3 separate regions of the Homo sapiens genome follow, and regions 1 and 2 are each linked to region 3. Evidence: fine-mapped expression QTL. A gene starts in region 3. Each other region holds a variant in brackets. All regions are shown on one strand. Distances are between the middles of the regions. Region 1 has its middle 45 kb from the start of NCAPH. Region 2 overlaps STARD7-AS1 (STARD7 antisense RNA 1). Region 3 holds the start of TMEM127 (transmembrane protein 127).

Evidence for each region. PIP is the estimated chance that this variant, and not a neighbour inherited with it, causes the effect.
Region 1: its variant is the best candidate, but not a certain one, in a credible set for the expression of TMEM127 in blood mononuclear cells (TOPMed, PIP 0.61).
Region 2: its variant is the best candidate, but not a certain one, in a credible set for the expression of TMEM127 in whole blood (INTERVAL, PIP 0.51).

The regions. Positions count from the first base shown.
Region 1 is chr2:96,379,124-96,383,295 of GRCh38, reverse strand. No RefSeq gene overlaps it. Among named protein-coding and RNA genes, the nearest start is that of NCAPH, 45 kb to the right of the region's middle. The variant C/T (reference allele first, on the strand shown) is at 2,035.
Region 2 is chr2:96,241,414-96,245,585 of GRCh38, reverse strand. It overlaps STARD7-AS1 (STARD7 antisense RNA 1), which reads right to left. Exons shown (of 4, transcript NR_046322.1): 4 at 2,963-3,709. Among named protein-coding and RNA genes, the nearest start is that of TMEM127, 22 kb to the left of the region's middle. RefSeq lists enhancers at 3,423-3,472, 3,493-3,752. The variant A/G (reference allele first, on the strand shown) is at 2,275.
Region 3 is chr2:96,264,187-96,268,358 of GRCh38, reverse strand. TMEM127 (transmembrane protein 127) reads left to right here and starts at 2,362. Exons shown (of 4, transcript NM_017849.4): 1 at 2,362-2,490; 2 at 2,847-3,221. The coding sequence starts at 2,978. CIAO1 (cytosolic iron-sulfur assembly component 1) reads right to left here and starts at 2,134. Exons shown (of 7, transcript NM_004804.3): 1 at 1,870-2,134; 2 at 890-1,038; 3 at 623-734; 4 at 435-523. The coding sequence starts at 2,008. RefSeq lists enhancers at 1-945, 1,543-1,822, 2,053-2,242 and silencers at 2,473-2,522, 2,533-2,742, 2,793-3,102.

The DNA.
Region 1 (4,172 bases), 110 kb before region 3:
TTTTGTACATTGATTTTGTATCCTGAGACTTTGCTGAAGTTGCTTATCAGCTTAAGGAGATTTTGGGCTGAGACAATGGGGTTTTCTAGATATACAATCATGTCATCTGCAAACAGGGACAATTTGACTTCCTCTTTTCCTAATTGAATACCCTTTATTTCCTTCTCCTGCCTAATTGCCCTGGCCAGAACTTCCAACACTATGTTGAATAGGAGTGGTGAGAGAGGGCATCCCTGTCTTGTGCCAGTTTTCAAAGGGAATGCTTCCAGTTTTTGCCCTTTCAGTATGATATTGGCTATGGGTTTGTCATAGATGGCTCTTATTATTTTGAGATACGTCCCATCAATACCTAATTTATTGAGAGTTTTTAGCATGAAGGGTTGTTGAATTTTGTCAAAGGCCTTTTCTGCATCTATTGAGATAATCATGTGGTTTTTGTCTTTGGTTCTGTTTATATGCTGGATTACATTTATTGATTTGCATATATCGAACCAGCCTTGCATCCCAGGGATGAAGCTCTCTTGATCATGGTGGATAAGCTTTTTGATGTGCTGCTGGATTTGGTTTGCCAGTATTTTATTGAGGATTTTTGCATCAATGTTCATCAAGGATATTGGTCTAAAATTCTCTTCTTTGGTTGTGTCTCTGCCCGGCTTTGGTATCAGGATGATGCTGGCCTCATAAAATGAGTTAGGGAGGATTCCCTCTTTTTCTATTGATTGGAATAGTTTCAGAAGGAAGCATACCAGTTCCTCCTTGTACCTCTGGTAGAATTCGGCTGTGAATCCATCTGGTCCTGGACTCTTTTTGGTTGGTAAGCTATTGATTATTGCCACAATTTCAGAGCCTGTTATTGGTCTATTCAGAGATTCAACTTCTTCCTGGTTTAGTCTTGGGAGGGTGTATGTGTCCAGGAATTTATCCATTTCTTCTAGATTTTCCAGTTTATTTGCGTAGAGGTGTTTGTAGTATTCTCTGATGGTAGTTTGTATTTCTGTGGGATTGGTGGTGACATCCCCGTTATCATTTTTTATTGTGTCTATTTGATTCTTCTCTCTTTTCTTCTTTATTAGTCTTGCTAGTGGTCTATCAATTTTGTTGATCCTTTCAAAAAACCAGCTCCTGGATGCATTAATTTTTTGAAGGGTTTTTTGTGTCTCTATTTCCTTCAGTTCTGCTCTGATTTTAGTTATTTCTTGCCTTCTGCTAGCTTTTGAATGTGTTTGCTCTTGCTTTTCTAGTTCTTTCAACTGTGATGTTAGGGTGTCAATTTTGGATCTTTCCTGCTTTCTCTTGTGGGCATTTAGTGCTATAAATTTCCCTCTACACACTGCTTTGAATGTGTCCCAGAGATTCTGGTATGTTGTGTCTTTGTTCTTGTTGGTTTCAAAGAATATCTTTATTTCTGCCTTCATTTCGTTATGTACCCAGTAGTCATTCAGGAGCAGGTTGTTCAGTTTCCATGTAGTTGAGCGGTTTTGAGTGAGTTTCTTAATCCTGAGTTCCAGTTTGATTGCACTGTGGTCTGACAGACAGTTTGTTATAATTTCTGTTCTCTTATATTTGCTGAGGAGAGCTTCACTTCCAAGTATGTGGTCAATTTTGGAATAGGTGTGGTGTGGTGCTGAAAAAAATGTATATTCTGTTGATTTGGGGTGGAGAGTTCTGTAGATGTCTATTAGGTCCACTTGGTGCAGAGCTGAGTTCAATTCCTGGGTATCCTTGTTAACTTTCTGTCTCGTTGATCTGTCTAATGTTGACAGTGGGGTGTTAAAGTCTCCCATTATTATTGTGTGGGAATCTAAGTCTCTTTGTAGGTCACTCAGGACTTGCTTTATGAATCTGGATGCTCCTGTATTGGGTGCATATATATTTCGGATAGTTAGCTCTTCTTGTTGAATTGATCCCTTTACCATTATGTAATGGCCTTCTTTGTCTCTTTTGATCTTTGTTGGTTTAAAGTCTGTTTTATCAGAGACTAAGATTGCAACCCCTGCCTTTTTTTGTTTTCCATTTGCTTGGTGGATCTTCCTC[C/T]ATCCTTTTATTTTGAGCCTATGTGTGTCTCTGCACCTGAGATGGGTTTCCTGAATACAGCACACTGATGGGTCTTGACTCTTTATCCAATTTGCCAGTCTGTGTCTTTTGATTGGAGCATTTAGTCCATTTACATTTAAAGTTAATATTGTTATGTGTGAATTTGATCCTGGCATTATGATGTTAGCTGGTTATTTTGCTCGTTAGTTGATGCAGTTTCTTCCTAGCTTTGATGGTCTTTACATTTTGGCATGATTTTGCAGTGGCTGGTACCGGTTGTTCCTTTCCATGTTTAGCGCTTCCTTCAGGAGCTCTTTTAGGGCAGGCCTGGTGGTGACAAAATCTCTCAGCATTTGCTTGTCTGTAAAGTATTTTATTTCTCCTTCACTTATGAAGCTTAGTTTGGCAGGATATGAAATTCTGGGCTGAAAATTCTTTTCTTTAAGAATGTTGAATATTGGCCCCCACTCTCTTCTGGCTTGTAGATTTTCTGCTGAGAGATCTGCTATTAGTCTGATGGGCCTCCCTTTGTGGGTAACCCGACCTTTCTCTCTGGCTGCCCTTAACATTTTTTCCTTCATTTCAACTTTGGTGAATCTGACAATTATGTTTCTTGGAGTTGCTCTTCTCGAGGAGTATCTTTGTGGTGTTCTCCGTATTTCCTGAATCTGAATGTTGGCCTGCCTTGCTAGATTGGGGAAGTTCTCCTGGATAATATACTGCACAGTGTTTTCCAACTTGGTTCCATTCTCCCCGTCACTTTCAGGTACACCAGTCAGACTTAGATTTGGTCTTTTCACATAGTCCCATATTTCTTGGAGGCTTTGTTTGTTTCTTTTTATTCTTTTTTCTCTCAACTTCCCTTCTCGCTTCATTTCATTCATTTGATCTTCCATCACTGATACCCTTTCTTCCAGTTGATCGCATTGGCTCCTGAGGCTTCTGCATTCTTCACGTAGTTCTCGAGCCTTGGCTTTCAGCTCCATCAGCGCCTTTAAGCACTTCTCTGTAGTGGTTATTCTAGTTATACATTCGTCTAAATTTTTTTCAAAGTTTTTAACTTCTTCGCCTTTGGTTTGAATTTCCTCCTGTAGCTCGGAGTAGTTTGATCGTCTGAAGCCTTCTTCTCTCAACTCATCAAAGTCATTCTCCATCCAGCTTTGTTCCGTTGCTGGTGAGGAACTGCATTCCTTTGGAGGAGGAGAGGCATTCTGCTTTTTAGAGTTTCCAGTTTTTCTGCTCTGTTTCTTCCCCATCTTTGTGTTTTTATCTACTTTTGGTCTTTGATGATGGTGATGTACAGATGGGTTTTTGGTGTGGATGTCCTTTCTGCTTGTTAGTTTTCCTTCTAACAGACAGGACCCTCAGCTGCAGGTCTGTTGGAGTTTGCTAGAGGTCCCCTCCAGACCCTGTTTGCCTGGGTATCAGCAGCGGTGGCTGCAGAACAGCGGATTTTCATGAACCTCGAATGCTGCTGTGTGATCGTTCTTCTGGAATTTTTGTCTCAGAGGAGTACCCAGCCGTGTGAGGTGTCAGTCTGCCCCTACTGGGGGGTGCTTCCCGGTTAGGCTGCTCGGGGGTCAGGGGTCAGGGACCCACTTGAGGAGGCAGTCTGCCCGTTCTCAGATCTCCAGCTGCATGCTGGGAGAACCACTGCTCTCTTCAAAGCTGTCAGACAGGGACATTTAAGTCTGCAGAGGTTACTGCTGTCTCTTTGTCTGTGCCCTGCCCCCAGAGGTGGAGCCTACAGAGGCAGGCAGGCCTCCTTGAGCTGTGGTGGGCTCCACCCATTTCGAGCTTCCCGGCTGCTTTGTTTACCTAAGCAAGCCTGGGCAATGGTGGGCGCCCCTCCCTCAGCCTTGCTGCCACCTTGCAGTTTGATCTCAGACTGCTGTGCTAGCAATCAGGGGGACTCCGTGGGCATAGGACCCTCCAAGCCAGGTGCGGGATATAATCTCCTGGTGCGCCGTTTTTTAAGCCCGTCGGAAAAGTGCAGTATTAGGGTGGGAGTGACCCGATTTTCCAGGTGCTGTCTGTCACCCCTTTCTTTGACTAGGAAAGGGAACTCCCCGACCCCTTGCGCTTCCCGAGTGAGGCAATGCCTCGCCCTGCTTCGTCTTGCGCACGGTGCGCTGCAC
Region 2 (4,172 bases), 23 kb after region 3:
CACAGATGCCTTCTTCAGCACATGCTCGATATCTAACAAATATCTCTACGGTGAGATTTTCCCCCCAACCTTGGGCCCACTTAAGAAAGATGTTGAACTGGGCGCGAGGGCTCACGCCTGTAATTCCAGCACTTTGGGAAGCTGAGGTGGGTGGATCACTTGAGGTCAGGAGTTTGAGACCAGCCTGGCCAACAAGGTGAAACCCCGTCTCCATTAAAAATACAAAAATTAGCCGGGCGTGGTGGTGGGCGCCTGTAATCCCAGCTACTTGAGAGGCTGAGGCAGGAGAATTACTTGAACCTGGGAGGCAGAGGTTGCAGTGAGCCAAGATCATGCCACTGCACTCCAGTCTAGGTGACGGAGCAAGCCTCCGTCTCCAAAAAAAAAAAAAAAAAAAAAAAAAAAAGAAAGATATTGAGAAATTGGAGAGGGTCCAGGCAAGCATTCTGAGTGGATGAAAGGTTAAAAGTTCTAGAGAAAAGGATGTAATAGCAATCTTAAATGTGTGAGGAGATAATTATTTATTTGCTCAAATGTGTGACTTAAAAAGGCACGCCTTCTCTATAGGACTGTTTCCTTATATGTAAATGAGGGGCTGAACTGGGTGACTTTACAGTCCTGCCAGCCATAAAGATCCATGACTTCCTGAGAGGGGGCTGCCACGCTCTGTATCCACTGTGGGAGATGAAGAAGGACTGAGGAACTGAGCAGTTTAGCTGTAGCCTGTAGTACCAGCTACACAGGAGGCTGAGGCAGGAGGACCACTGGAACCCAAGAGTCTTGAGGCTGCAGTGCACTATGATCATACCTATGAATAGCCACTGCACTCCAGCCTGGGCAGCACCACCAGACCGCATCTTTCTTTCCTTTCTTTTTTTTCTTCTTTTGATGGAGTTTCGCTCGTCACCCAGGCTGGAGTGCAATGGGGTGATCTTTGCTCACTGCAACCTCCATCTCCCAGGTTCAAGTGATTCTCCTGCCTCAGCCTCCCAAGTAGCTGGGATTACAGGCATGTGCCACCATGCCCACCTAATTTTTGTATTATTAGTAGAGACAGGATTTCTCCATGTTGGCCAGGCTGGTCTCAAACTCCCAACCTCAGGTGATCTGCCCACTTCGGCCTCCCAAAGTGCTGGGATTACAGGTGTGAGCCACTGCTCCTGGCCTCTATTTATTTACTTACGTGAGTTTTTTTTTTTCCAATAGGTTTTTGGGGAACAGGTGGTGTTTGGTTATAGGAATAGGTCGTTTAGTGGTGATTTCTGAGATTTTGGTGCACCTACCACCTATGCAGTGCACACTGTACCCAATGTGTAGTCTTTTATCCTTCACCCCCTTCCCACCCTTTACCCTGAGTCCCTAAAGTCCATTGTACTCATCTCTATTAAAAAAAAAAGAAAAAAAGGCCAGGTGCAGTGGGCAGATCACTTGAGGTCAGGAGTTCACGATCAGCCTGGCCAAAATGCTGAAACCCCATCTCTACTTAAAAAAAAAAAATTAGCCAGGCATGGTGGTGTCTCGGCTGTAGTCTCAGCTACTCAGCAGGCTGAGGCAGGAGGATCACTGGAACCCAGGAGGCAGAAGTGGCAGTGAGCCAAAATTGAGCCACTGCCCTCCAGGCTGGGTGACAGAGCGAGACTCCATCTCAAAACAAAAACAAAAACAAAACAAAACGAACAACAACAGCAGCAAAAAAAGGCCAGGTTCAGTGGCTCACACCTGTAATCCCAGCACTTTCGGAGGCCGAGGTGGGCAGATCACTTGAGGTCAGGAGTTCGAGACCAGCCTAGCCGACATGGTGAAACTCCGGCTCTACTAAAAATACAAAAATTAGCTGGGTGTGGTGGCTTGCTCCTGTAGTACCAGCTACTCGGGAAGTTGAGGCAGGAGAATCACTTGAACCTGGGAGGCAGAGGTTGCAGTGAGCCAAGATTGCACCACTGCACTCCAGCCTGGGGGACCAGCCAGACCTTGTCTAAAAAAAAAAAAAAGGAAAGAAATAAATTCTTTTCCCATCTTTCTTTCTTTATTCTTATTTTTTGAGACAGCGTCTTCATCTGTTGCCCAAGGTAGAGTGCAGTGGCACAATCGCAGCTCATTGCAGCCTCTATCTCCTTAGGTTTAAGCAATCCTCACACTTCAGCCTCCAGGTTGCTGGGACTACAGGTGTGCAACACCACACCTGACTGATTTTTTTTTTTTCTTTTCTGTATTTTGTAGAGATGTGGTTTTGCCATGTTGCCCAGGCTGCTCTCAAACTCCTGGGCTCAAGCA[A/G]TCTACACACCTCAACTTCCCAAAGTGCTGGGATTACCACCACACTTGGCCCTTTTCTCATTTCTAAAGTGGGTTGTCTTTTATTGTTGAGTTTTAAGAGCTTTTGTTTGTTTTTGCCATCCTGTGCCACTCTGTTGCACAGGATGGAGTGCCGTGGAGCCATCTGGGCTCACTGAAACCTCCAACTCCTGGGTTCAAGTGGTTCTTCTGCCTCAGTCTTGAGTGAGCCACTACGCCCGCCTAATTTTTGTATTTTTAGAGAGATAGAGTTTCACCGTGTTGGCCAGGCTGGTCTCAAACTCCTGACCTCAGGTGATCCGCCTGCCTCGGCCTCCCAAAGAGCTGGGATTATAGGCATGAGCCACCATGCCCGGCTGAGTTTTAAGAGTTTTTATATATTCTAGATACCAGCCCCTTATCAAGTGGCACAGAGCAACTATGGCAGAGGGCCTACAGAGATTAAGTTTGTGCCCCATAGATATACACTAAAACATTTTGGAGAAATGGAAAAATATGGATTGATACTTTCCATTGCAACAGAATTCTTTTAAAAGACAAAAGAACCTTAGATATCCTCACCAAATTTCAGGATGAAGAACACAGATATTGGAAATTCTTGCTCTAATCTTACCTAAGGGTGTATTAGTCAGTGCTGTTTTAGTTGCAAAAACTAAAAACTCAACTCAAATTAGTCATGGAAGAAAGGAATTTATTGGCTGAGCAGCGGAGAAGTTAAATCCTGAGGTGAATTTGGGGCTCCCAAGATGTCTGGGCCTCCTCACTCCCCCTCTTCCAGCTCCACCCCTGATCACTGGCATCATTTCCTGGCCAGGCCCTTCTCTAGCCTTCAGTGTGGCAAGAGAGCAGTTTCATTTCCGGCTATCTCAGAGCACTGCATTCAACAGAAAACAAAGCAAGCCCTTTCCTTGGAGTTTACAAATGACTCAGGATTCACTCTGATTTGACCAAGAGTCAGAACCCTAATTGGCCAAGCCTGAAGTCACTTGTCTACCCCTGATACTGGGAATAGAATGCATGGATGAGAGGGAGGTGGGTGGTTCCATGAAAAGGAAATTCAAGCACTTTTCCTAAAAGAAGGGGGAATGGATGCTGAAACAACACGTCTCCCACAAAGGGAGCAGACACTGGGCTTGTGAAGCTGCCCCATACCTTCCCCACAGAACTGGGTTTCCCTCCTTGGTGCCCCTGACGGAGCCTTGTCTTCACCCTCCATTATGTATTCATCATGTGGCATCGTCACTGTTTCCTCCTCTGTCTCCAGAGTGTCTTCTCTTAGTTCTCAGCTAGTAAGAGAAGGAGGCTGGGCATGGTGGCTCATGCCTGTAATCCCAGCACTTTGGAAGGCCAAAGTGGAAGGATTGCTTGAAGCCAGGAGTTTGAGACCAGCCTGGGCAACAAAGTAAGACTCCCGTCTCTACAAAAAAGAAAAAAAAAGTTAGCTGGGCATGGTCATGTGCACCTGTGGTCCCAGCTACTTGGGAGGCAGAGGCAGGAAGACTGCTTGAGCCCAGGAGTTTAAGGCTGCAGCGAGCTATGATTGCACCACTGCACTCCAGCCTGGGTGACAGAGTGAGACCTCATCTATAAAATTTTTTTTTAAATGCAGGGGTGAAGGAAATAAGGAGGTAATTACTGAAAGAATGAAAGGTCATGCTAGAAATATACCATAAAATGCAATGGGGACTCAAAGAAGGGCAAGATTAAAGGGGACAGGAAATCTATTCTGGGGTGTCTTTGAGGGCCCTGAGAAATAAAACAAAGGAGTGGCAACAGGAACCAAAATATCCTCTTAATTACTGCTAGAGGGCTGGGCTGGAGGACACAGCTTTAGACCTGTGAACTAAGTGAGCTGCTAATGCAAATCCCACTAGGAGGCA
Region 3 (4,172 bases):
TTTATTTGAGATGAAGTTTGCTGTTGTTGCCCAGGCTGGAGTGCAATAGCACGATCTCGGCTCACCGTAACCCCCGTCTCCTGGGTTCAAGTGATTCTCCTGCCTCAGCCTCCCGAATAGCTGGGATTACAGGCATGTGCCACCATGCCCGCTAATTTTGTATTTTTAGTAGAGACGGAGTTTCACCATGTTGGCCAGGCTGGTCTCGAACTCCTGACCTCAGATGATCCACCCACCATGGCCTCCCAAAGTGCTGAGATTATAGGTGTGAGCCACCACACCCAGCCGGATCTGTTTTTATAAAGGGACTAATGTTTTTTGTTCACAGATGGAACTCTCCGTAAAAGCTAGATTAAGGCTGAAAAGCAGAGGAAGGCTGGGCACAAGCCTGCACACCAGAGCCCTTCCCACAAGAGTCCCTGCTTGACTCTTACCTCCTGACTTGGGTGCCAAACCACATGCTTGACATCCTGTGTGTGGGAGTTGAGAACACTGACACATTCATACTCATCCTCTTCATCAACTGTGGGAGAGAAAAAGGGGACCCAAGAGCCGACCCTGTCAGGGACACAGAGGGGGCTGTCAGGTGGTTCCCAATCCACCTGGAGGGACCTGGCCTCACCTTCCCAGACCCAAACGCTCTTATCTCGGCTGCAAGTGGCCAGGAGGTTGCCAGATGGGGCCCAAGCCACTGACTTGACCTCATTTTCATGGCCCTCGAGAGTGGTTACACACTGTGAAAGGGGAAAGAAAATGAGAATTAACAGCAGCTAACACCCCTAAGCCCCTTCCCATGGGTACAGCCCAACTGGCGCAGGTTGGCTCAGGTTCCTGAACCAGCCCTGGGGAGGAAACAGGCAATAATTCTGGTCCCAACCAGCCTGGGTACCTCAAAGTCATCCTGGTTCTTCTTCCAAATGCAAGTGGTAGCATCAAAGCTGGCAGAGGCCAGGTAATTACCGCAGGGGGACCAGGCTACCTTCCGCACGGTGCGCTGGTGGCCTTCAGAAAGGACAGACTTGCAGATCCAGCTGTCACCTAAAGGCGGAGCGCAGGCCAGGCTCTGGAGCTGGGTGCAGCACCATGAAGCCATTCAATATCAGGGGCTAGCACTGGAATCAAGCTAGTGGGGGAAAGCTCAGGGAGTGTATTTCACAGCTTTTACAAAGATGCAAATGAATCTACTTCGTCTGGAAGCTTTTTTTTTTTTTTTTTTTTTTTTTTGAGACGGAGTTTTTGCTCTGATGCCCAGGCTGGGGTGCAATGGCACAATCTCGGCTCACTGCAATCTTCGCCTCCTGGGTTCAAGGGATTCTCCTGCCTCAGCCTCCCGAGTAGCTGGGATTACAGGTGCCCGCCACAACGCCCAGCTAATTTTGTAGTTTTAGTAGAGACGGGGTTTCACCATGTTGGCCAGGCTGGTCTTGACCTCTTGACCTCAGGTGATCTACCCGCCTCTGCTTCCCAAACTGCTAGGATTACAGGCGTGAGCCACCGCGCCCAACCTCTGGAGGCATCTTTCTAAAACAAATCTGATCTAAAATTGCTATTGGTTCCCCAATGCCCTCGGGATAAAATGTGACCATCCAGTCGCAAGTTACTCTGAAGGCCACTTTCCTAACACCTCTCTTTTCCCATTTTCCTGCCTCTGCAGCTAACACAATTCCCTTGACATTTCAGCTTGTCTGCTGACGTTTTTCCTCCCAACAGTCGCAGACTTCTTTGCCTGTAAAGCCCTTCTCGGCGTGGCTAACATCCCACTCTCCCTCCGCCAGGAACAGGTTCAGCCTCCCCTGCAGGCTGAGCGCCTGCACTACGCGCAGGCTGAGCCCTCAGCGCTGAGGGCCGCGCAACCAGGCTGGGCCTTACCCTCCGTGCCCCAGATGCGGATTCTCCGGTCGCCGCCGCACGAGGCCAGCAGGGTCCCCGCGGGGTTCCAGGCCAGGAACCAGCAGCGGGAGTCCGGGTGCGCCGGGACACGGCCCAGCAGCACCAGCGAGTCCTTCATGTCGGCCCGACGCAGGGGGAGGTGGGGGCGGGCAGAGTCCGCTGAGCAGACAGCGGGTCTCACCGCGCGCGTCTGCGTACCGCCCACTCCAGGCTTCCGCGGCCGACAGAGGCTCCCGCTTCCGCCGGAGGACCTGGGTCGCCCCGGAAACTCAACTGCCCACTGCTGCGGCCGCCATACCCTCTGGGAGTTGTAGTCGCTCCCCTCACCTCGGCAGGGAAAGCATCGCGGGACCGCCTCGAACTACCAGTCCCGTGAGGCCCTGCGCAGAGCCGGCGGCGCGCCCAGGCTGTGACGCGCGCGGGGGACGGGGCGGGGAGCCGGAGGAGGCGGAGGCAGAGGAGGAGGAAGCCGGAAGTGCATCGGCCCCGGGTCTGTCCGGGCGTTGCGGGATTGGGGCCTGGGAACGCTCGGCCCCCGGCAGCCGAGAAGCCCGTGACTGGGCTGAGCAGCACCATCCCAGCCCTGGGGCCTGCTGACTGGTGAGGAACAGTGGGCGGCGTGGGGAGGGTCTTTTCTGCGCACAGGTCGCACCCCAAACCGCCGGTCCCAGATCACGGGTCCCCGATCCCCGCGGCCCAGCCCGGTCCTCCGCCCCTCGGCATCCTCTGGCTGAGACCCTGACTCCGGGTCTTTGCTCTAGCAGTAGCCGATCCCCGATCCCTCCGCCCCCCACTCGAGTCTGCCCAGACCCCATCTGGCCCCTGGCCCTCTTCGGTTGTCGTCCCGCAGTCCCATTCCGGAGTCTCCTGTCTCCGCCCCCCGAATTCCCGCAGCCCTCCCCGTCTCCGTCAGCCCCGGGTCCCACCCCCCTATCCTCTGGTGTCAACCCTGACAGCCCAGTCCCGGCTTCACCTGCAGCGAACCCGGAGCGTTGCTATCCTCCACCGGACTGTCAGGCTCTGCGCGCCCCGCGGAGGTCGGCGGCGACCAGCAGCGACTGCGGAGCGACGGCGGGCGGCCCCGGGCATGTACGCCCCCGGAGGCGCAGGGCTGCCCGGCGGGCGCCGGCGGAGGAGCCCGGGAGGCAGCGCTCTGCCCAAGCAGCCGGAGCGTAGCCTGGCCTCGGCCCTGCCTGGCGCCCTGTCTATCACGGCGCTGTGCACTGCCCTCGCCGAGCCCGCCTGGTTGCACATCCACGGAGGCACCTGTTCGCGCCAGGAGCTGGGGGTCTCCGACGTGTTGGGCTATGTGCACCCGGACCTGCTGAAAGGTGAGGGTGCTGCGCGCTGGCCCTTAAAGCCTCGGTGGGGGACAGAATGTGTTCTGGCTGAAGCAGAGATAGCCAGGGACCAGACACTTGGTTGAAGGAAACGGCCCCATAACTGCCTGGTGTTCATGCCCACCAGGTGGCTCTGTTTGGGGTCCGGCCCCTCATTAATTCTGATGTTATTCAGCTAAGCACCTACTCCTCACAGCCATGTTAATCCGGACTGCTGCTATTTTAGGATTCTGCTGGAGGAAGGACGCTGTGTATCGAGAAAAGATAAGGGTGCTAGGTATCACAGTTAGCTGGCCTCTTCTAAGGATCCTGTGAAATACGGAAAAGCTTCTTTGGGGCAGACTGATTAATGGAGAAAAAGGAACTTTTAATATGACTAGGTTTTAAAAGATATCTTAGAGTTCTATGGTAATCGGATGCGTATTAGAGAAGAAGGGAATCTGTGGCATTTTAGGTAATCGGAAGACCGTTCCATTGCCACCCGCAGTACAACAGTCGGAATGTGGCTCTTGGAACCATTATAGGTGTGCCTGACAGAGGCAAGGTTGCTTTGTTCATCATCATGCTTTCCGGCCAGATAGACAGCAGACGATGGGAGGGTCCTATGGGCCCCATAGTTTATCCTGCCCATTCTTGTCTCCAGTAAAAATTGTGAAGTGTGAGGACAGGACTGGACTGTATCACCTGCTTTTTACCCTAACAATGATCAATGTACCCCAAACAGTCCTTAGTAACAGCATAGTTCATCAACCCCAAGGTCTTTTGAGCCATCTTGAAGGTCTTATATCCTCTCTGTGCTATCCTGTCTGTGCTATTCCCTGGCTGTGATGCATTCCAGATGTTTACTGCACCGCCTATCAGAAGCACTTCCTGTTAGATATCTGCGTGTTACCTCCTGAAGAATTCAGGCACTGGGATTTGGTGAAAAGGTCCAAGTTCCCC